Regions from separate parts of the Homo sapiens genome. Here region 1 is linked to region 2. The links come from fine-mapping of genetic effects on gene expression. A gene starts in region 2. The other region holds a variant in brackets. All regions are shown on one strand. Distances are between the middles of the regions. Region 1 overlaps MAP2K2 (mitogen-activated protein kinase kinase 2). Region 2 holds the start of MAP2K2 (mitogen-activated protein kinase kinase 2).

Region 1 (10,559 bases), 35 kb after region 2:
CTGCGGGGAGCAGAGGGTGTGTGCGTGGGAACAGCTCTGGGCTCTGAGCTCCGCCGCTCCTGCCTGGTGCTGGTCCCGCACCCACAGGATGAGACCCCGGGCTTCTTTGCCCTCATGAGAGGCTGGAGGCAGCTCTCAGCCCCCCAGGCTCCTTTCCCTGCAAACTAGAGGGTGACCATCCCTGTTCTGCACACTGGCAAGCAGGTCCCCCGAGGCCGTGCGTACTTCGGTGTCCCCTTAAACCCCCATCCTCTGATATCCTCGGAAGCCCAGCTGTTCACCAAAACTCGCCTCCCCAGCGGGGACTACACCCTCAGAGGAGGGCCCCGGGCATCATCCTCCTGCCCTCAGCCCAGCCTGCATCCCGAGTGCTTTCCCATACCACAGCCACCGTCAGCGACCTTCAAACCCCTCGACAGCTGATTGGCGGATTGGAGATGCCACCCCCCTAGACAGCCCGTTACTTTCTGTGCCTGTAAGAAAAGAAGAGATGCCAGCTACAGACACCCAACCGGGTGCCTTCTAATACTGGAATGTGGCTTTCAGTTTTGTTTTTTTCTTGAGAGTCGGACAGAGTCTCACTCTGTCGCCCAGACTGGAGTGCAGTGAAGCAATCTCAGCTCACTGCAGTCTCAGCCTCCCAGGCTCACACAATTCTCCAGTCAGCCTCCCAGGTAGCTACGATTACAGGCACCCGCCACCACACCCGGCTAATTTTTGTATTTTTAGTAGAAACAGGCTTTCACCATGTTGTCCAGGCTGGCCTCAAACTCCTGACCTCAGGTGATCCACCTGCCTCAGCCTCCCAAAGTGCAGAGATTACAGATGTGAGCCACCGCACCTGGTCAAAAAAATTTTTGAGATACAGCCTTGCTCTGTCCCCCAGGCTGGAATGCAGTGGTGCGATTGTAGCTCACTGTAGCCCCAACTCCCGTGCTCAAGTGATCCTCCCACTCAGCCTCCTGAGCAGCTGGGGCTACCGATGTGTGCCACCAAGCCCAGCTAGTTTTTGTGTGTGGGTTTTGTTTTTCCCCGCAAAGATGAAGTCTCACTCTTGTCACCCAGGTTGGAGTGCAGTGGTACGATCTCGGCTCACTGCAACCTCCGCCTCCCAGGTTCAGGGAATTCTCCTGTCTTAGCCTCCTCAGCCTCCTAAGTAGCTGGGATTACAGGTGGCTGCCACCACGCCCAGCTAATTTTTGTATTTTTAGTAGAGATGGGGTTTCCCCGTGTTGGCCAGGCTGGTCTCGAACTCCTGACCTCAGGTGATCTGCCTGCCTCAGCCTCGCAAAGTGCTGGGATTACAGGCGTGAGCCACCGTGCCCGACCTGCCCAGCTAGTTTTTTTTATAGAGACAGGGTCTTGCTAATTGTCCAGGCTGGTCTCAAACTCCTGGGCTCAAATGATTCTCCCACCTTGGCCTCCCAGAGGGCTGGGATTACAGGTGTGAGCCACTGCACCTGGCATGTGTGACTTTTTTTCTTTTTTAATGAGGCAGGCTGGGCATTGTGGTGGGCACTTGGAATCCTAGTGCCATAGGGGGATGGCTCTCTGAGGCCAGGAGTTCAAGGCCAGCCTGGGCAACATGGTGAGACTGTGCCTCTCCAAAATAAATAAATAACTAAAAAGAGAGGGGTACTAATGTTGAAATAACTTTTTTTTTCCCTCAGACGGAGTCTTGCTCTGTTGCCCAGGCTGGAGTGCAGTGGCGCAATCTCGGCTCACTGCAAACTCCATCTTCCAGGTTCAAGCGGTTCTCCTGCCTCAGCCTCTCGAGTAGCTGGGATTACAGGCTCGTGCCACCACACCCGGCTAATTTTTGTGTTTTTAGTAGAGATGGGGTTTCACCATGTTGACCAGGCCAGTCTCGAACTTGTGATCCACCCACCTAGGTCTCCCAGAGTGCTGAGATTATAAGCATGAGCCACTGGGCCTGGCTGAAATAGCCATTTTTGAACCAGCTTCTTAAAAATGCTCCCCTGTTGGGTATCCTGGACCTAGCCAAGATGTGTCCTATCAAGTTGGTTGGTTTTTCACCCATACCTACACCGACTTTTAGGAAGATAGGCACCTTGGCCTGCCTCCAGCTGCAAAAGAGGCAGCATTCAGGGGCCCAAGGTCCTGGACACCACCCTCCTGGGAACCCCAAAGGCCTCTACTCACCCACTGTGGGGTGGCCCAGCACAGCCTCTTCCCCAAGGGCACCCGCCCTCCTCCCCCAGCCCTTCCAACCAAGAGGCTTCTCATGTTGTGCTGTCCTGTACAGGAACCGCTGGTCACACGTGGCTGTTGAAGTGTGTTCAGTGGGGCCGGGCACAGTGGCTCACACCTGTAATCCCGGTACTTTGGGAGGCCGAGGTGAGCGGATCATTTGAGGACAGGATTTCGAGACCAGCCTGGGCAACATGGAAAAACCCGGTCTCAACTAAAAATACAAAAATTAGCTGGGCATGGTAGCACGCACCTGTAATCCCAGCTACTTGGGAGGCTGAGGCGGGAGAATTGCTTGAACCTGGGAGGCAGAGGTTACAGTGAGCTGAGATCATACCACTGCACTCCAGCCTGTGCGACAGAGCAAGACTGTCTCAAAAAATAAAAATTAAGGCCAGTTGCGGTGGCTCACACCTATAATCCCAGCACTTCGGGAAGCTGAGGCAGGAGGATCATTTGAGTTCAGGAGTTCGAGACCAACCTGGCCAACATGGTGAATCCCCGTCTCTACTAAAAATACAAAAATTAGCTGGGTGTGGTGGCACATGCCTGTAATCCCAGCTACTGGGGAGGGTGAGGCAGGAGAATCGCTTGAACCCGGGAGGCGGAGGTTGCAGTGAGCTAAGATCACACCACTGCACTCCAGCCTGGGCAACAAGAGTGAAACTCCATCTAAAAAAAAAAAAAATTAAAGTAAAAGTATTTAATTAATTTGTTAAACTGAAATAAAATTGAGGCTTTTGTTCTCAAGCCATGGGAGCCACAGTCCAGGGGCTCTGGAGCCTCATGTGCTGGCGAGTGGGACGGTGCCTGTACAATGCTCTTCGCGGAGTTCTGTGGAACAGCCCGTTCTTGCCTGGGCTGTCCTGCTCCGGGGGACCCTGGCAATGGCTGAGGACATTGTGGTGTCACGACTTGGGGAAGCCCCTGGCATGGAGTGGGTGGAGGCCAGGGACGCTGCTCAGTACCCTGCAGTACCCAGGATGGCCCCACGCCAGAGAATGATCCGGCCCCGGTGTCCACAGCGGCCGGAGGACCCTGGGCTTGCGCGAGCGTAGACCCTCCCCTGGGAGCGCAGGCTGCCGTGCTGGTGGTGTCCCCGCCCCAGGTGGAGTGCAGCATCCTGAGACCCCTCCCAGGCCTGGCACACGCCGCTGCCCCTTTCTGGGTTTCTTTCCCTCTCCTACCCCGAGTGCGTCTTCCTGTGGGGAAGGGAGGGTCTCCTCTGTTTTTTGCTTTCTGTCCCGTACCATCTGCCAGGGCTGGGCAGACGCTGGCCCTCCCCGTCCTACTGTGACTCCAGGCCCGGGTGCTCACGGCTCCCCTTTCCTTGCAGAACCACACCTTCATCAAGCGGTCCGAGGTGGAAGAAGTGGATTTTGCCGGCTGGTTGTGTAAAACCCTGCGGCTGAACCAGCCCGGCACACCCACGCGCACCGCCGTGTGACAGTGGCCGGGCTCCCTGCGTCCCGCTGGTGACCTGCCCACCGTCCCTGTCCATGCCCCGCCCTTCCAGCTGAGGACAGGCTGGCGCCTCCACCCACCCTCCTGCCTCACCCCTGCGGAGAGCACCGTGGCGGGGCGACAGCGCATGCAGGAACGGGGGTCTCCTCTCCTGCCCGTCCTGGCCGGGGTGCCTCTGGGGACGGGCGACGCTGCTGTGTGTGGTCTCAGAGGCTCTGCTTCCTTAGGTTACAAAACAAAAC[AGG/G]GAGAGAAAAAGCAAACCGCGCCATCCTGCTTCTTTCTTCCGTTCGGCGTTGGGTGCTGGGCTTTGCTTCAGCCCAGCACGGAGAGGACATCCCTGAGCTGACCCGCATCGCCGGGCGCCGAGGCTGGAGGGCGCAGGGCCCTCCCTTAGGGAGAGCTCGCCTCTCCCTTTGGGTCAAGGGATGAAGACCTGCAGTGAGCCCCCAGGCGATGGCGGCTCTCACCAAAAGGAAGGAGAGTGAGGCTGGGGGCGGCGGCTCATGCCTGTCATTCCAGTGCTTTGGGAGCCTAAGGCGGGAGGATCGCTTGAACCCAGGGGATTGAGGCTGCAGTGAACCTCGATGGTGCCAGTGCGCTCCGGCATGGGTGACAGAGCAAGGCTACTGAAAAAAAAGAAGGGAAATGCCACCTGGTTTCCCTCTGTGTCCTCCCCGCCACCATCTCTGCCCCTGTGGAAGGCAGAGCTTCGGCCTTCCGTGATGGAAACCACTTCCTCTACACTGCTCCTGTCACGTAGCCTCCGCGGGAAGGCCGCCCCTGCCTCTTCCCCAGCGTGGCACCATCCTCTCCCTGTCCCCCCGCTTCAGGGAGTGGGGGCTCCCAGCAGTGGCAGCTGAGCTGAGACTCAGCCCCACAGAAAGGAAGCGCTGGCTTTCCAAGCTGTCGGTTTGGTTGGAAACCCCAGCAGGTCCCGAGACACGCCCTGCACTCCCCCTGCGTCCGCAGCAGGCCCAGCCCAGGGCGGGTGGTTCTGTCACCTCTCCTCGCCCAACAAATCAGAAGTGACCACCAGGGCATGTGACACTTTCGGGCCTTTGAACTGTTCCGCCGCAGTGGGCTGCAGATGAAACGGTGAGGGCTTGTCCTGGGGTCTTCGGGGTTCCCGGAGGCCCATCGCCTGCTTCTCCGGTTGTCCGAGATCCAAAGCCCAGCCTTTCTACCTTCGGGACTGTGTGCTCGGATAGAGGAGGCCACCTCTGGGCTAGGTGTGGTGGGCAGCTGGGCTGTTCTAGGGTCCCTCTGAGCTCTCTAAAGCTCTTGAGGCTGTGAGCCTCCCCCTTCAGTACTTCCTGGAGACTACCAGCAAGCTGATATTATCTGCGGGCGAATTGTAGGGGAAGGGTGGCTGGCAACTGTGTTTCTGGAGGAAACAAAGCAGAAGGTGGGGGCTTGTGGTTCTGTGGGAACTGCTGGATTGTCCTTTTCTTCTTAGGGTGACCCTTCTAGTCTTGTGTGGCTTTTTTTTTTTTTTTTTTTCTGCAGACACCAAAGAAGAGATGAGTTGACACCTCCTGCAAACAGCTCCCCAGGCTGCTCTCCTTTATGTTTTGCCCTAAAGTCTCACATGACTTAAAAAAAAAAAAAAAAAAGCCAGGCTTGGTGGCTTACACCTGTAATCTAAACACTTCGGGAGTCCGAGGCAAGAAGATCACTTGAGCCCAGGAGTTCAAGACCAGCCCGAGCAACATAGTAAAACCCTATCTCTACAAAAAAAAAAAAAAAAAAAAAAAAAAATTGGCCGGGCATGGTAGTGCACAACTGTAGTCCCAGCTACTCAGGAGGCTGAGGCAGGAGAATCACCTGAGCCTGGGGAGGTGGAGGTTGCAGTGAGCCAAGATCTCACCATCACACTCCAGCCTGGGCGACGGAGTGTGGCCCCAAAAAATAAAAAATAGGAGAAAAAAAAAAGTGTTGAAGGTGCCGCCCTGTGGGTAACCAGGACCCTCAGGATTGCCGGGAGGGCCGGGGGGAATGTGTTGGCTGCCTGTGCTCCAAACCGGCGGGACCTCGGCCGGTCCTGGAAACCCCAGGGTCCCGGCCACCCCCTGCCATTGGCAAGGAATGAAAGGACACGGAGTCCCAGGGGAGCAGGGGCAGTCTGGGCTAGGTGGGGATGGACCCCGCGCCAGGATCCCTGCGGTGTGCGCAGCCATCCTGCAGCTTCATTGGAGCCCCACGGCACCCCAGAGGGAAGGACGGGAGAGAAGCCGTGGTCTTGCCTATCTTCCCTGCCTCGCTTCAGGGTCAGACTTCTAGAAACTACTTTGTAGATGTGGCAAGAGTGCGTCCACCCTGGCGGTTTCTAGATCTCTCAACTCCTGCTCCCCCAAGAAACCTCCCAGACCCAGCCGCCGCCTCATCCGAGATCCCCCTCCTGCCTGCTGTCCTTTGGACTCGTTGCCTCATTTTCTCCACTGTGGAGGCCTGGGAAGGGATCCCGGGTGCTCCCAAAGGTGGCTACACACCTGGGGATGCCCCTTTTTGCCCTGGCCACGGACATGCTGCAGTCCAGGGGGTAGGATTTCCCTGCCTCCCGGGGCCAGACCCTTTCCTGTAAAACATGCAGCATTTTAAAATTTGCAGGGCATGGGCTGGGTGGCTCACGCCTATAATCCCAGGACTTTGAGACCAAGGTGGGCAGATCACCTGAGGTCAGGAGTTCAAGACCAGCCCGGCCAACACGGCGAAACCCTGTCTCTACTAAAAATACAAAAAAAAGTTAGTCGAGCTTGGTGGTGGATGCCAGTAGTCCCAGCTACTGGGGAGGGTGAGGCAGGAGAATGGCGTGAACCTGGGAGGCGGAGCTTACAGTGAGCTGAGACTGTGTCAGTGCACTCCAGGCTGGGCGAGACAGCGAGACTCCGTCTCAAAAAAATAATAAAAAATAAATAATAAATAACGTTTGCGGGGCTTTAGGGTGAAGGGAGTGTCACTGAAAGCCAGGCCTTGGGGGGCCCTGGGGCAGCTCACTCCTTGACATTGGAAGGTTTTACACAGACGTGTTGAGGTTTTCTGTGGTTATTAAAAACCTCCAGATAGGCCGGAAGCGGTGGCTTATGCCTGTAATCCCAGCACTTTGGGAGGCCAAGAGGGGCGGATCACGAGGTCAGAAGTTCGAGACCAGCCTGGCCAACATGGTGAAACCCTGTCTCTACTAAAAATACAAAAATTAGCCAGGCATGGTAGCACGCCTGTGGTCCCAGCTACTCAGGATGCTGAGGCAGGAGAATCGCTTGAACCCGGGAGGCGGAGGTTGCAGTGAGCCGAGATCGCGCCACTGCACTCCAGCCTGGGCGACAGAGCAAGACTCTGTCTCAAAAAAAAAAAAAAAAACTTCTCGACAACATGATAGCCCTGCCCCCATGTCTGAGGCCCACGTGGACCTGGGGCACACCACCTGTGGCCCCAAGAAGACTCCTACAGTGTTTTGTCGGCTGTTTTCCCAGCTCGGTATTTTTTTTTCCAGACAGAGTATTGCTCTGTCGCCCAGCCTGGAGTGCAGTGGCATAATCTCAGCTCACTGCAACCTTCACCTCCCGGTTCAACTGATTCTTGTGTGTCAGCCTCCCGAGTAGCTGGGACTACAGGTGCCCACCACACCCAGCTAATTTTTGTGTTTTAGTAGAGACAGGGTTTCACCATGTTGCCCAGGCTGGTCTCAAACTCCTGACCTCAAGCCGTCCACCCGCCTCGGCCTCCCAAAGTGCTGAGGTTACAGGCGTGAGCCACCACGCCCACCCCCCAGCTTGGTATTTTCATCGTAAATAAACAGCGCTTGACTTGCTCATATGTGCTGGCTTCTGCCTCCGGAGAGCATGGGCAGCCCTGACATCCCTCTCCATAGTGCAGTCTGTCCCCGGACACACCAAAAAGTCACTGGCTCCATGCAAGTGCCCCAGGCTGTGTGCCGGGCAGGATTTGCTAACATATTTGATTTATGAAGCTGGGGTCACAGGCGACTGCCTGCTCGCTTCATCCTGTGGAATTCTCCCCAGGTGGGACCCAGGCCGGCCCTGGGACAGGCACATACTTCCTTCTCCTCCTGCAACAACCGCCTCGGGGTGGGGCAAGTGGAAAGGTCATCAAATGAAATGAGGCCGGAGAAGCAACCAGCCGCCCAGAGGGTGAGATTCCACGCGGGGCACCACGCCATAGCGTCCCCGTCCTGTCCCCATCCCTGCCACCCCAACCCAATGTGCACATTGCACCCCAGACGAAATGTACATTTCCCAGTTTTAGCAGGATTTCCCTGTTAAAACATTTTAAATAGAAAGGGCTGGGCACAGTGGCCCACGCCTATAATCCCAGCACATTGGGAGGCCAAGGCGGGAGGATCACTTGAGGTCAGGAGTTCGAGACCAGCCTGGGCAACATGGTGAAATCCCATCTCTACTAAAAATACAAAAATTAGCCAGGCATGGTGGCGGGCGCCTGTAATCCCAGCTACTAGGGAGGCTGAGGCAGGAGAATCCCTTGAACCTGGGAGGTGGAGCTTGCAGTGAGCTGAGATCATGCCACTGCACTCCAGCCTGGGCAACAGAGCGAGACTCCATCTCAAGCAAACATAAATTAGCCAGCGTGTTCACTTAAACCCAGGAGAGGAAGGCTGCAGTGAGCCAAGATCGTGCCACTGCCCTCCAGCTTGGGCGACAGAGCAACACTCTGTCTCAAAACAAACAAACAAACAAAAATTAGCCGGCCTGTTCACTTAAACCCAGGAGACGGAGGCTGCAGTGAGCCAATATCATGCCACTGCCCTCCAGCCTGGGTGACAGAGCGAGACTCTGTCTCAAAAAAAATAAATACCGTTCTGGTGCAGGGGCTCATGCCTGTAATCCCAGCACTTTGGGAGGCCAAGGTGGGTGATCACCTGAGGTTAAGAGTTCAAGACCAGCCTGGCCAACATGATGAAAGCCCATCTCTACAAAAAATACAAAAATTAGCTGGGCATGGTTGTGGGCACCTGTAATCCCAACTACTTGGGAGGCTGAGGCAGGGGCGCAGGAGTTACCTGTTCCACCCCGCGCCCCTGCATTCCAGCCTGGCAACAGAGGGAGACAGACTCCATCTCAATAAATAAATAAATAAATAAATATTAATAAACAAAATAGAGGAAAAGAACAGATGATTTGATAGTATATTTCACCCAGCAGAGCCAAAATATTCCCGTTTCACCTTGGAATCAATATGAAATATTTAGGTTTTTCTCTCTTTTTTTTTTTTTTTTTGAGATGGAGTCTCGCTTTGCTGCCCAGGCTGGAGTGCAGTGGCGTGATCTCGGCTCACCACAACCTCCACCTCCCGGGTTCAAGCGATTCTCCTGCCTCAGTCTCCCGAGTAGCTGGGATTACAGGCATGTGCCACCACACCCGGCTAATTTTTGTATTTTTAGTAGAGACAGGGTTTCACCATGTTGGCCAGGCTGGTCTCGAACCCCTGACTTCAATGATCTGACCGCCTTGGCCTCCCAAAGTGCTAGGATGACAGGTGTGAGCCACCACGCTGGGTGGTTTTGTTTTGTTTTGTTTTGTTTTGTTTTTTTGGATGCAAATACTTGGGAATTTTGTCTGCCAGGGACTGCCTGACCGGCCGGCACAAAACTCAGTCATTTCTGTCCCCTCACAGATGTCTTTTAATCCACTGGATCTTAGCAGGAACAATTCTGTCCCCCCACCCAGGGGAGGCTTGGAAACTCCCAGACGTCTGTGGTTGTCGAGACAGGGGGTGCCCCTGCCATGGAATGGATGGAGGCCAGAGATGTCACCCAGCACCCTGCAGTGCCCAAGGCAGCCCCACCTCCCGAGGACCATCCAGCCCAGATGTCCCCAGTGCAGGTTGGAGGCGGGGGTCTCAGGCAGCCCTCCCTGGGGCCAGGGCGGTTTCCTGTGTGCAGAGTCTGGGACACAGGGTGGAGGGGGTGCAGGCAGGGGACAGCTGCACCCGGGGTGGGGACATGATGGGGCAGCACATAAAGAAGCTTCTAGAAGGTGGGCGGTCTAGGGCCACGTGGCCAGGGGTGGAGGTGTGTGACCTGCAGGAAGCCTCAGGTCCCGCAGGCGGAACTCAGCCTCCTGGAGGCCCTGGGCTCCAGGGCAGGTTAAGGAGAGTTCAGAGGAAGTTGTCACAGCCTTTCCCAGAATGCAGGGGTCTGGCGAGGAGTGGGAGGGAGGGAGGAAGAAGGGGCCCGGCTCAAAACGAAACCAGCAGCGGCCGGCGGCCCCACCCCTCCCTCCGCTCCTCTTCCTGGCCTCTGAGCTGACCAGGTGTGCAGGCCCCGGGGCCTCCAGGCCGCACCTGGAGCAACAGGCCAGGTGGGTTTAGGGTGGCGCAGGAGTTACCTGTTCCGCAGTCCCTGGCAGGCGGACAGGAGAGGCCTGGGCCCAGTGGCGACCTGGAACTGGAGGCCCAGTCTCAGGTTTCTGCCAGGCTTCCCAGGGGAGGGACAGAGGCCTGGAGAGAGGCCCCCTGGAGGGTAGCACAGGTGAGGACCCACCCCCCCAGCTGGGACCCTGACCCCAGCTCTCTCCCATCTACCAGTGACTCACCACCAGCCCCTCAGGAGAGCAGGGCCTCCTGTTTTGTTTACGTTTTTGTTTGAGGCAGGGTCTCACTCTGTTGCCCAGGCTGGAGGGCAGTGGCGCGCCATCATAGCTCACTTCAGCCTCCGCCTCCCAGGTTCCAGCGATCCTCCTGCCTCAGCCTCCTGAGTAACTGGGACTGCAGGCGCGCGCCACCATGCCCAGCTCATTTTTTGAAACTTTCTCGTAGAGATGGGGTCTCACCGTATTGCCCAGGCTGGCCTGAAACTCCTGGAACTCCTGGCCCCAAGCAATCCTTCTGATCCCAGTGTGCTGGGATTA
Region 2 (10,708 bases):
GAGACCAGCATGGGCAACATGATGAGACCCCCCCATCTCCACAAAAAATATAAAATTAGTTGGGCATGGCGGTGGGAGCCTGTAGTCCCAGCTACTCCGGAGGCTGAGGTGGGAGGATGGCTTGAGCCCAGAAAGTGGAGGCTGTAGTGAGCTGAGATCACACCACTACACTCCAGCCTGTGCAATAAAGGAAAATCCTGTCTAAAACAAAACCAAAACCAAAAACAAAACATTGTCCTAAAGCAGAAAGAGCTGACACCAGGCCGGGTGCGGTGGCTCACGCCTGTAATCCCAGCCTATAATTCCAGCACTCTGGGAGGCCGAGGCAGGTGGATCACGAGATCAGGAGTTCAAGACCAGCCTGGCCAATATGGTGAAACCCCATCTCTACTAAAAATACAAAAATTAGCTGGGTGTGGTAGCACACGCCTATAATCCCAGCTACTCCGGAGGCTGAGGCACGGGAATCGCTTGAACCTCGGAGGTGGAAGTTGCAGTGAGCCGAGATCGTGCCACTGCACTCCAGCCTGGGTGACAGAGTGAGACTCTGTCTCAAAAAAAAAAAAAAAAAAAAAGAACTGACACCATGAGTGCAATTCCATTTACATGAAACTCTTGAACAGGCAAAAACTAATCTATGGGGATAGAACGCAGAATCTGGGGGGGTTTTGGGAGTAGTAGTGGACTGCAGCTGGCTTACAGCCACTCGTAAGCATCTTTGATACCATTGTCAACTTTATTTTTTTTGAGACTGACTTTCACTCTCGTTGCCCAGGCTGGAGTACAGTGGCACCATCTCGGCTCACCACAACCTCCACCTCCTGGGTTCAAGCGATTCTCCTGCCTCAGCCTCCCTCGTAGCTGGGATTACAGGCATGTGCCACCACACCTGGCTAGTTTTGTATTTTTATTTTTATTTATTTATTTTTTTAGACAGAGTCTTGCTCTCTTGCCCAGGCTGGAGTGCAGTGGCGAAATCTCAGCTCACTGCAAGCTCCACCTCCCGGGTTCACACCATTCTCCTGCCTCAGCCTCCTGAGTAGCTGGAACTACAGGTGCCCGCCACCACGCCTGGCTAATTTTTTTGTATTTTTAGTAGAGACAGGGTTTCACTGTGTTAGCCAGGATGGTCTCTGGTCTCGATCTCCTGACCTCGTGATCTGCCTGCCTCAGCCTCCCAAAGTGCTGGGATTACAGGCGTGAGCCACCGCGCCCGGCCTTGTATTTTTAGTAGAGACAGGGTTTGTCCATGTTGGTCAGGCTGGTATCGAACTCCCGACCTCAGGTGATCCACCCGCCTCGGCCTCCCAAAGTGCAGGGATTATAGGCATGAGCCACCACATCTGGTCTTCTTCTTTTTTTTTTTTTTTTTGAGACAGAGTCTCCCTCAGGCTGGAGTGCGGTGGCACGATCTTGGCTCACTGCAACCTCCACCTCTCAGGTTCAAGTAATTCTCGTGCCTCAGCCTCCCAAGTAGCTGAGACTACAGGCACCTGCCACCATGCCCAGCTAATTTTTTTTTTTTTTCCGAGATGGAGCCTTACTCTGTTGCCCAGGCTGGAGTGCAGGGGCACAATCTTGGCTCACTGCAACCTCCACCTCCGGGGTTCAAGCAGTTCTCCTGCCTCAGCCTCCCGAGTAGCTGGGATTACAGGTGCCCACCACCATGCCCGGCTAATTTTTGTGTGTTTTTAGTAGAGACGGGGTTTCACCATGTTGGTCAGGCTGGTCTTGAACTCTTGACCTCAGGTGATCTGCCCACCTCGGCTTGCCAAAGTGCTGTGATTACACCCGTGACCAGCCTAATTTTTGTATATTTAGTAGAGATGGGGTTTCACCATGTTGGCCAGGCTGGACTCGAACTCCTGACCTCAAGTGATCACCTGCTTTGGCCTCCCAAAGTGCTGGGATTGCAGGTGTGAGCCACCACACCCGGCCTCTCCTTATTTTAATGGCTCATTGTTAAACATTTACCAGCTCACTACTGCTGGGTGCAGAGGAAGAGAATGAACTAAAAAGGCAGTGAACAGACTTTCTGGAGTAAGGGGAAGTGTTACATGGATGTATAGAGTTGTAATAATCCAAGAAATTGAACTTCAGAAACTTGTGCATTAATAGGTGAGTGCAGTGGCTCACGGCTCTAGTCCCAGCACTGCTGAGGACGAGGCAGGAGGATCGCTTGAGCCTAGGAGTGTGAGACCAGCCTGAGTGACATGGAGAAACCCTGTCTGGACAAAAAATACAAAAATTAGCCGAGTGTGGTGGCGTATGTTTGTAGCCAGGGCTACTAGGGAGGCTGAGGTGGGAGAATCGCTTGAGCCAGGGAGGTGGAGGCTGCAGAGAGTTATGATCGTGCCACTGCACTCCAGCCTGAGGCCTGGGTGACAGAGTCAGAACTTGTCTTAAAAAGAAAAAAAAAGCCTAAAATAGGATAAAATGGGAGAAAGATTGCTAGGCAAAACAGAAGGAACATGGAAATAGCCCTGTCTCTGAAAGGGCCTGTCCTTATTTGAGGCCACATATGCATCCATCTGAATTTTGGACAAGCGGGTGGGAGCGATGAGAAGTAAAACTGAAAGGCCCAGATTGTAAAAACCCAGGAGCAGGCTTCCCCAGGAGCAGTGTTTTGTTTGTTGTTTTGTTTTGTTTTGTTTTTTTCGAGATGGAGTCTCGGTCGGTCGCCCAGGCTGGAGTGCAATGGCGTGATCTCGGCTCACTGCAACCTCCACCTCCCGGGTTTAAGCGATTCTCCTGCCTCAGCCTCCCGAGTAGCTGGGACTACAGGCACGCATCACCACACCCAGTTAATTTTTGTATTTTTAGTAGAGACGGGGTTTCACCATGTTGGCCAGGATAGTCTCAATCTCTTGACCTCATGATCCACCTGCCTTGGCTTCCCAAAGTGCTGGGATTACAGGCGTGAGCCACCGCGCCCGGCCAGTTGGTTGGTTTTGTTTTTTGAGCGTGAGTCTGGCTCTGTCGCCCAGGCTGGAATGCGATGGCACAATCTCGGCTCACTGCAACCTCCGCCTCCGGGGTTCAGTTATCCCACCTCAGCCTCCCTAGTAGCTGGAATTACAGCCACCCGCCACCACACCTGTGTAATTTTTGTATTTTTAGTAGAGACGAGGTTTCACCATGTTGGCCAGGTTGGTCTCGAACTCCTGACCTCAAGTGATCAGCCCACCTCAGCTTCCCAGGGTCCTGGGATTACAGGTGTGAGCCACGGCACCTGGCAAAAAATTAAATTTTTTTTTGTTCTGTTTTATTGGAGACGGAGTCTTACTTTGTCGCCCAGGCTGGAGGGCAGTGGTGCAATCTTGGCTCACTGCAACGTCTGCCCCCCGGGTTCAAGCGATTCTCCTGCCTCAGCCGCCTGAGTAGCTGAGACTATAGGCACACACCGCCAGGCCTGGCTAATTTTTGTATTTTATTTATTTATTTGTTTGTTTGTTTGTTTGTTTGATTTTTTTGAGACGAAGTCTCGCTCTTGTCTCCCAAGCTGGAGTGCAATGGCGTGATCTTGGCTCACTGCAACCTCTGCCTCCCGGGTTCAAGCAATTCTTCTGCCTCAACCTCGCGAGTAGCTGGGATTACAGGCACGCGCCACCATGCCCGGCTAATTTTTGTATTTTTTTGTTTTAGTAGAGACGGGGTTTCACCATGTTGGCCAGACTCGTCTTCAACTCCTGACCTCAGGTGATCCACCCGCCTCGACCTCCCAAAGTGCTGGGATTACAGGCGTGAGCCACCGCGCCCAGCCTATGACCTTTCTTATAAAGTGGTACGGCTATTGTATTAAATAGTAAGGTGGTGCTTCAAAAAGTTCAACATAGAATTACCATATAATCCAGTAATTCCTCTTCAGAACATATACCCAAAAGAACTCAAGGCAAGGACTCAAACAGATATTTGTACATCTGTGTTCATAGCGGCACGATTCACCGAAGTGTCTAGTGGCAGATAAATGGATAAGCAAAATATAGTCCATGCACACAATAGAATATTATTCAGCCTTAAAAAGGAGGAAAATCCTGACTGGGTGCGGTGGCTCACGCCTGTAATCCCAGCACTTTGGGAGATCGAGGCGGGTGGATCACGAGGTCAGGAGATGGAGACCATCCTGGCTAACACGGTGAAACCCCGTCTCTACTAAAAATACAAAAAAATTAGCCGGGCATGGTGGTGGGCACCTGTAGTCCCAGCTACTCGGGAGGCTGAGGCAGGAGAATGGCGTGAACCCGGGAGGCAGAGTTTGCAGTGGGCCGAGATCGCACCACTGCACTCCAGCCTGGGTGACAGAGCGAGACTCCGTCTCAAAAAAAAAAAAAGGGAAATTTTTCTTTTTTTTTTTTTTTCTGCTCTTTTTTGGAGCAGGGCTACCCGATTGGAAGTATGCCCGGAGTAGTCAAGTGGGTAAATTCTAACACAGGTTACAACGTGGATCTAACACAGCTACAACAGGCACCTTGAGGACGTGGCCCTCAGTGAAATATGCCAGCCACAAAGGGACAAAACCTGTGTGATCCTACTCATATGAAGTCCCTAGAATCATCAGATTCACAGGAAGTACGACGTTGGGTTCCAGGGGCTGGGGAGGGGGATAGGGAGTGAGGTTTCATAGGGGACAGTGTTTCAGTTTCGGAAGATGAGAAAATTCTGGAGATGGTGGTGGTGGTGGTTGCTTAATGCCGCTGAGCTGTGCATTTAGAAATGGTTAAAATGACAAGTTTTATGTTATGTGTATTTTATAATAAAAATGTTTCAACATGCGCATAGTAATATATGCAATTTTATTTGTCAATTAAAATAAATTTTAAAAATGTTTTAGAGTGGCCTTGTTCTGATGAAGGAGGGGGAGTAACTGACACTCTAAGGCGGTGGGGGCTAGGGGCGTGTGTCCACGCTTGCCAAAAAGATTAAATGGACTCTGGGTGGGTCTCGTCCACTGTTCTGGGGTCTTACGGGTTCTCTCAGCCCCAGCCTGGGGCACCACAGGCTCTCAGGAGTCTGGCTACCCTGCCCACCTGTGCACGACCATCACCCCAGCCTTCATCCCTCCGTCTCCTCCCCTGCTCCCGCGCCTCATGCCCCAAGCGCTTGGGCACACGCGCCGTGGTAAGGCAAGCGAGGGCGCCCGGTCCCGGCACCGCCTCGCGTCGGTCTCCGCCCCTTTCCCCTCCGAAAGGCGGCCTTGTGCTGCTGCGCAGGCGCGGCGGCTGGGGGTGGGGTCCATCGCGGCTCCCGATCCCGTTATCGCGAGAAGCCGGTCCGCGATCTTGTGGCCGCCCCTCCCCTCCCCCTGCCTCTCGGACTCGGGCTGCGGCGTCAGCCTTCTTCGGGCCTCGGCAGCGGTAGCGGCTCGCTCGCCTCAGCCCCAGCGCCCCTCGGCTACCCTCGGCCCAGGCCCGCAGCGCCGCCCGCCCTCGGCCGCCCCGACGCCGGCCTGGGCCGCGGCCGCAGCCCCGGGCTCGCGTAGGCGCCGACCGCTCCCGGCCCGCCCCCTATGGGCCCCGGCTAGAGGCGCCGCCGCCGCCGGCCCGCGGAGCCCCGATGCTGGCCCGGAGGAAGCCGGTGCTGCCGGCGCTCACCATCAACCCTACCATCGCCGAGGGCCCATCCCCTACCAGCGAGGGCGCCTCCGAGTGAGTGGGCAGGGGTCAGCCGGAGGCTTGGGGTGCACGGGGCAGGGAGCCCTCGGGGAAGGACGGGGCGAGGGGACGGGGGTTCGCGAGGAGTGCACGAGGCAGGGGGGTCACGGGGGAGGACGGGGTGAGTGGTGCACGGGGCAGGGGGTTCTCGAGGGGAGGACAGGGCAGGGGACCCTCGGGGGAGGACGGGGCAGGGGGCCCTCGGGGGAGGACGGGGCAGGGGGCCCTCGGAGGACGGGGCGAAGGGTGCACGGGGCAGGGGGGTCTTTGAGCAGTGAGATTGGGCGAGGGGAGGTCCTTGTGGTGGAAAAGATGGGGTGTGGGGTTCCTGAAGAGTGGAATTGGGATAACGGGAGTCTCTGAGTAGTGAAGTTGGGGTGAAGGATGTCTCTAAGAGGAGAGGATGGGGACAGGGGTCCCTGAGCAGCGAGGTTGAGTGAGGGGAGGTCCCTGCAGTGCAGAAGATGGGGTGTGGGGCTTCTGAAAAGTGAAGCTGGGGTGAGGGGAGTCCCTCAGTAGGAAAATCGGAATGAGGGGTGTCCCCAAGGAGAGAACAGGATGAGGCTCCCCAAGCAGTGAGATCGGGGTGAGGGGTATCTCTAAGAGGAGAGAACACAGTGTGGGGTCCTTGAGTAGTGAAATGAGGGTGAAGAGTTCCTAAGAGGAAAGGACGGAGTAAAGGTTGCCGTAGTCATGAGATGAGGGTGAGGGGAGACCCTGAGTAGGGAAATCGGGGTGCAGGGCATTCCTGAGAGGAGAGGATGGGGTGTGGGGAGGTCAGGCAGCCCCTGAGGAGGAAATCTGGGCAAGGGGGCTCCAGAGGGGAGAGGATGGGGTGAGGGGTCCCTGAGTAATGAGACTGAGATGGGGTAGGGTCCCTGGTAGGAAAAGACGGGGTAAGGGTCCCTCAATAATGAGATAGGGCCAAGGGAGGTCCCTGTGGGAAAAGACAGGGCATGGAGTCACTGAGTAGCAGAATGGTGGTAGGTCTCTGAGTAGTGAAATGGGGTGAACGGTCCCTGAATAGTGAAATCGGGGAGATGGTGGGGTCCCTGAGTAATGAGATTGGAGTGAGGGGAGATCCCTTTGGGGAAAAGATGGGGTTTGGAATCCCTAAGTCGTGAGATCAGGCCAAGGAGATGTCCTTGCAGAGAGAAGATGGGGTGCAGGGCCCCTGAATTGTGAGATGGGGTTGAGGGGGTCCCTGGGAGGAGAGGATGTGTCGGTGGGGGCCTGTGGGGGAAGGATAGGCAAGGGGTGTTCTGCATATTGAAATGATAGTGAAGCGAGTCCCTTGGGGGAGAGATGGGGTGAGGGGGTCCCTATGGGGGAAAGATGGGGTGGGAGGGTTCCTATGGGGGAGAGATGGGGTGAGGGGGTCCCTATGGGGGAGAGATGGGGTGGGAGGGTCCCTATGGGGGAGAGATGGGGTGAGGGGGTCCCTATGGGGGAGAGATGGGGTGAGGGGGTCCCTGTGGGGGAGAGATGGGGTGGGAGGGTCCCTATGGGGGAGAGATGGGGTGGGAGGGTCCCTATGGGGGAGAGATGGGGTGGGAGGGTCCCTATGGGGGAGAGATGGGGTGGGAGGGTTCCTATGGGGGAGAGATGGGGTGGGAGGGTGCCTGAGCCACAGGTTGAGAGTGCAGCACCTGGGTGGGGAGGACAGGCTGAGAGGTCTTGGGGGGGCGGGGAGCGGTCCTTTTGGGGAATGAGTCCCTGAGTAATGAGGTTGGCATGGGATGAAGAGGGCACCTAGGGTGCCAAGGTGGGGCAGGGGGGTCCCTTAGGGGAGAGGATGGGGTGAGGAGGTCCATAGACAACCAGGGAAAAGGGAAGAGAGGGGAGGACAGGGGGCTCCCAGAAGGGTCAGGATGTGGGAGAGGGGTGTCCTAGGGGGTCACGATGGGGTGGGAGACCCTAGAAAGGTCAGGATCGGGGGACTTTGGGGGGGTCAGGGTGGGAGTTCTGGGGTATCTGAGGACAAGGGGGTGTCTTAGGGGTGTCAGGACATGGGGGGGCTTTAGCGGGGTCAGGATGGGAGTTCTAGCGGGTTCCAGATGGAGGGGTTTCTGCTGGGGGAGGTCTAGTGGGATCAGGACAGGGGTTCCAGGGGGTTCATGTTGTGGGGGGGGTCAGGTTGGGTCCTCGGGGGTCATGTTGGGGGATTCTGGGGGGGTCAGGTTAGGGGGTCCTCGGGGGGTCATGTTGTGGGGGTTCTGGGAGGGCAGAGCAGGGGGTCCTAGGGGTCTCATGTTGGGGTTCTGAGGGGGTCAGGATGGGGTCCCAGGGAGGTCAAGATGTCAAGATGGGCATCTCTGAGAGGGCATCTCCTGCTTGTGGCGGTGCCCAGTGTGTGGAGTCCCTGAAGCTGGAAGTGTGAGGAGACAGGGAAGCCAGAGTGTGAGGAACGAGGAGGCGTGGGGATCAGGGGACCCTGCTGGCCCCTGAAAGCAGAGGTGCAGATTCTGAAGTGAGTGGACCGGAAAACCCTTGTGAGGGGCTGACCCAGTGCAGAAGCTTTGAGGAGGTGGAGGGCGACCAGAGGCCTGGGTGAAGGGATCTGAGAAAGGGGTATGCTGGGGTCCGGGTGGCGTGCTGGCAGAATCGCACTGCTCCAGGACGAGGGAGGGGACTGGGTGTTGGGGGCACACACTGGTGGGGTCATGCCAGGGTGATCTCTGCACTCCCGTTCTGCAGGCCGAGGCAGGGCAGGGCGATCCCCGGGGCCCTTGGCTGGGGTCCGGGTGCCGTGCCTGCGGTGTGACCCCTCAAGAACCAGGTGTCAGGGACTGTGGCATGTCTGGTGGCCTCTCCCGCTTGGGGGTCGGCCTTCTGTGACCCAGATGAAGACTCTTGATGCCAATGTGTGCAAGTCAACACGGGCACAGCCAGACACGGGGACCCGTTCCTCATTCTCTGCACAGAACTCGCCCTTCACATTTCTCTTCCGTGTGGGGTTTGATTCCCATCTCTTGAAGGATTCCCCCAGGAGAGGAAGCTGGCTGTAGGGACGCCAAGGTTTTGTTTTGTTTTGTTTAATAACCACAGTTGGGTTGCCAGTAAATTTAAGATGGATTAGTCAGCTGACTCCAGAATGCATTTTCAATGTTTTGAGCAGTACTTGAGACCTTCCAAGTCTGCCATCAGAAGTGTTCATTCATGGCTGGGTGTGGTGGCTCACGCCTGTAATCCCAGCCCTTTGGGAGGCCAAGGTGGGTGGATTACTTGAGGCCCAGAGTTCAAGACCAACCTGGCCAACATGGCAAAACCCCGTCTCTATTAAAAATGCCAAAAAAATTAGCTGAGCGCGGTGATGCACACCTGTAATCCCAGCTACTCAGGAGGCTGAGGCAGGAGAATCGCTTGGACCCAGGAGGCAGAGGTTGCAGTGAGCTGAGATCGTGCCAGTGCACTCCAGCCTGGGCGACAGAGCAAGACTGTCTCAAAAAAAATAAATATTCATTTATTCATTGATGTTATTCATTCATTCATTCATGTTCCCCTCCTTACCTTCTGTCCCACTCCCAGGGTCTCGCCATTTCTGCTTCTTCTGGGTCCTTGTTCAGCAGCTCCTCAGTGAGCACCTACTAGGGCCCTGTTTCCCCTCATGGGGGACACTAAGATGAGCAGGGGTTGTCCTGACCTCAGGCAGGTGTTGTTACCTCGGGCAGGTTCCCCCACCCCTGTGAGTCTGTTCCCTCCTGCCTGGGCCTCCGGGGACGATGGTGAGAATGGAATGAGATGGTGTTTGTCCAGCCCAGGAAGCGGTGCCCAGGCCCCTGCCTTCCAGCGAGCTCTTTGCAGCACCAGCTCCAGCGCCATCGCCTCGGTTCTGGCCTGTGTGCCCCGTGGCTTACGCCACTTCCAGCTGTAGGCGAACAGTGGTCGAACTTTGGGATTGGAAATTTCCAGATGGAAGGAGCAGTCCACGCCTTCATTCCCTGCTTCAGTCCCCTCTCTGGCTGTCCACCTTGGCTTTAGCTCCTTCCTGAATTGGGACCTCTGGAGGTGGCCTGTTCTTCCAGAGAGCCATTTAAAGCTGCACTGCCTGGTTGAGTAGCCCCTGGCTACAGGCAACACATAAAACAAGAATTGCCCAAACCCACGAGAGCATAGGCGCAATAATGCCATTGTAGATTTCAAAGGCTTAAGACGGAAACAGTGTGAAACATTCATTCATTTTTCATACTGGTTGTACGTTGAAAATGATAACATTTTTGATGGGTTAAATCAAATGTGTTATTAAAATTAATTTCAGCCAGGTGCAGTGGCTTATGTCTGTAATCCCAGCACTTTGGGAGGCCAAGGTGGGCAGGTGGCTTGAACCCAGGAATTCAAGAGCAGCCTGACCAACATGGCGAAACCTTGTCTCTACTAAAAATACAAAAATTAGCTGGGCGTGGTGGCGGGTGCTTGTAATTCCAGCTACTTCGGAGGCTGAGGCAGGAGAATTGCTTGAACCCGTGAGGTGGAGGTTGCAGTGAGCCAAGATCACACCACTGTACTCCAGCCTGGGCGACAGAATGAGACTTTGTCTCAGAAAATAATAATAATAATAAAAATTAATTAATTAAAAAGAGCCAGACATGATGGCTCACACCTGTGATCCTAGCTACTAGGAAGGCTGAGGTGGGAGGATCACTTGAGGACAGGAGTTGGAGGCTGCAGTGAGCTGTAATCGTGCCGCTGCACCCCAGCTTGGGAGGTAGAGCAGGACCCTGTCTCTAAATAAATGAAGTGAGTTCACCTGTTCTTTTTAAACATGGGTACTAGAAGATTTTAATTTGTGCGCATGGTTTACATTCCATTGCTTGTGCACAGCAATGGGTTCCTGTGTGCATTGCGCTTAGTTGTCTGTTACTCCAGGATCTGGTTCTGAGTCAAGGCATTTGTGAAAATAGCTTACTGTCGAAATTTCCTCTGAAGATTCCTTGAATCACCCAATAAAGTGCAATGTACTTGCTTGTTTAAATTGTTAGAAATTTTTTATTGTGTAGAAACAAGGTCTTGCTCTGTCACCCAGGCTGGAGTACATTGTCACGATCATGGCTCACTGC

The links. PIP is the estimated chance that this variant, and not a neighbour inherited with it, causes the effect.
Region 1: its variant is fine-mapped to the expression of MAP2K2 in whole blood (TOPMed, PIP 0.98).

Annotation. Positions count from the first base shown.
Region 1 is chr19:4,083,697-4,094,255 of GRCh38, reverse strand. It overlaps MAP2K2 (mitogen-activated protein kinase kinase 2), which reads left to right. Exons shown (of 11, transcript NM_030662.4): 11 at 3,548-3,935. The coding sequence ends at 3,658. Among named protein-coding and RNA genes, the nearest start is that of ZBTB7A, 22 kb to the right of the region's middle. RefSeq lists enhancers at 4,311-4,390, 3,746-4,522, 4,801-4,970, 9,462-9,601. The variant AGG/G (reference allele first, on the strand shown) is at 3,918.
Region 2 is chr19:4,118,721-4,129,428 of GRCh38, reverse strand. It overlaps MAP2K2 (mitogen-activated protein kinase kinase 2), which reads left to right and starts at 5,307. Exons shown (of 11, transcript NM_030662.4): 1 at 5,307-5,645. The coding sequence starts at 5,554. RefSeq lists silencers at 5,155-5,274, 5,465-5,714.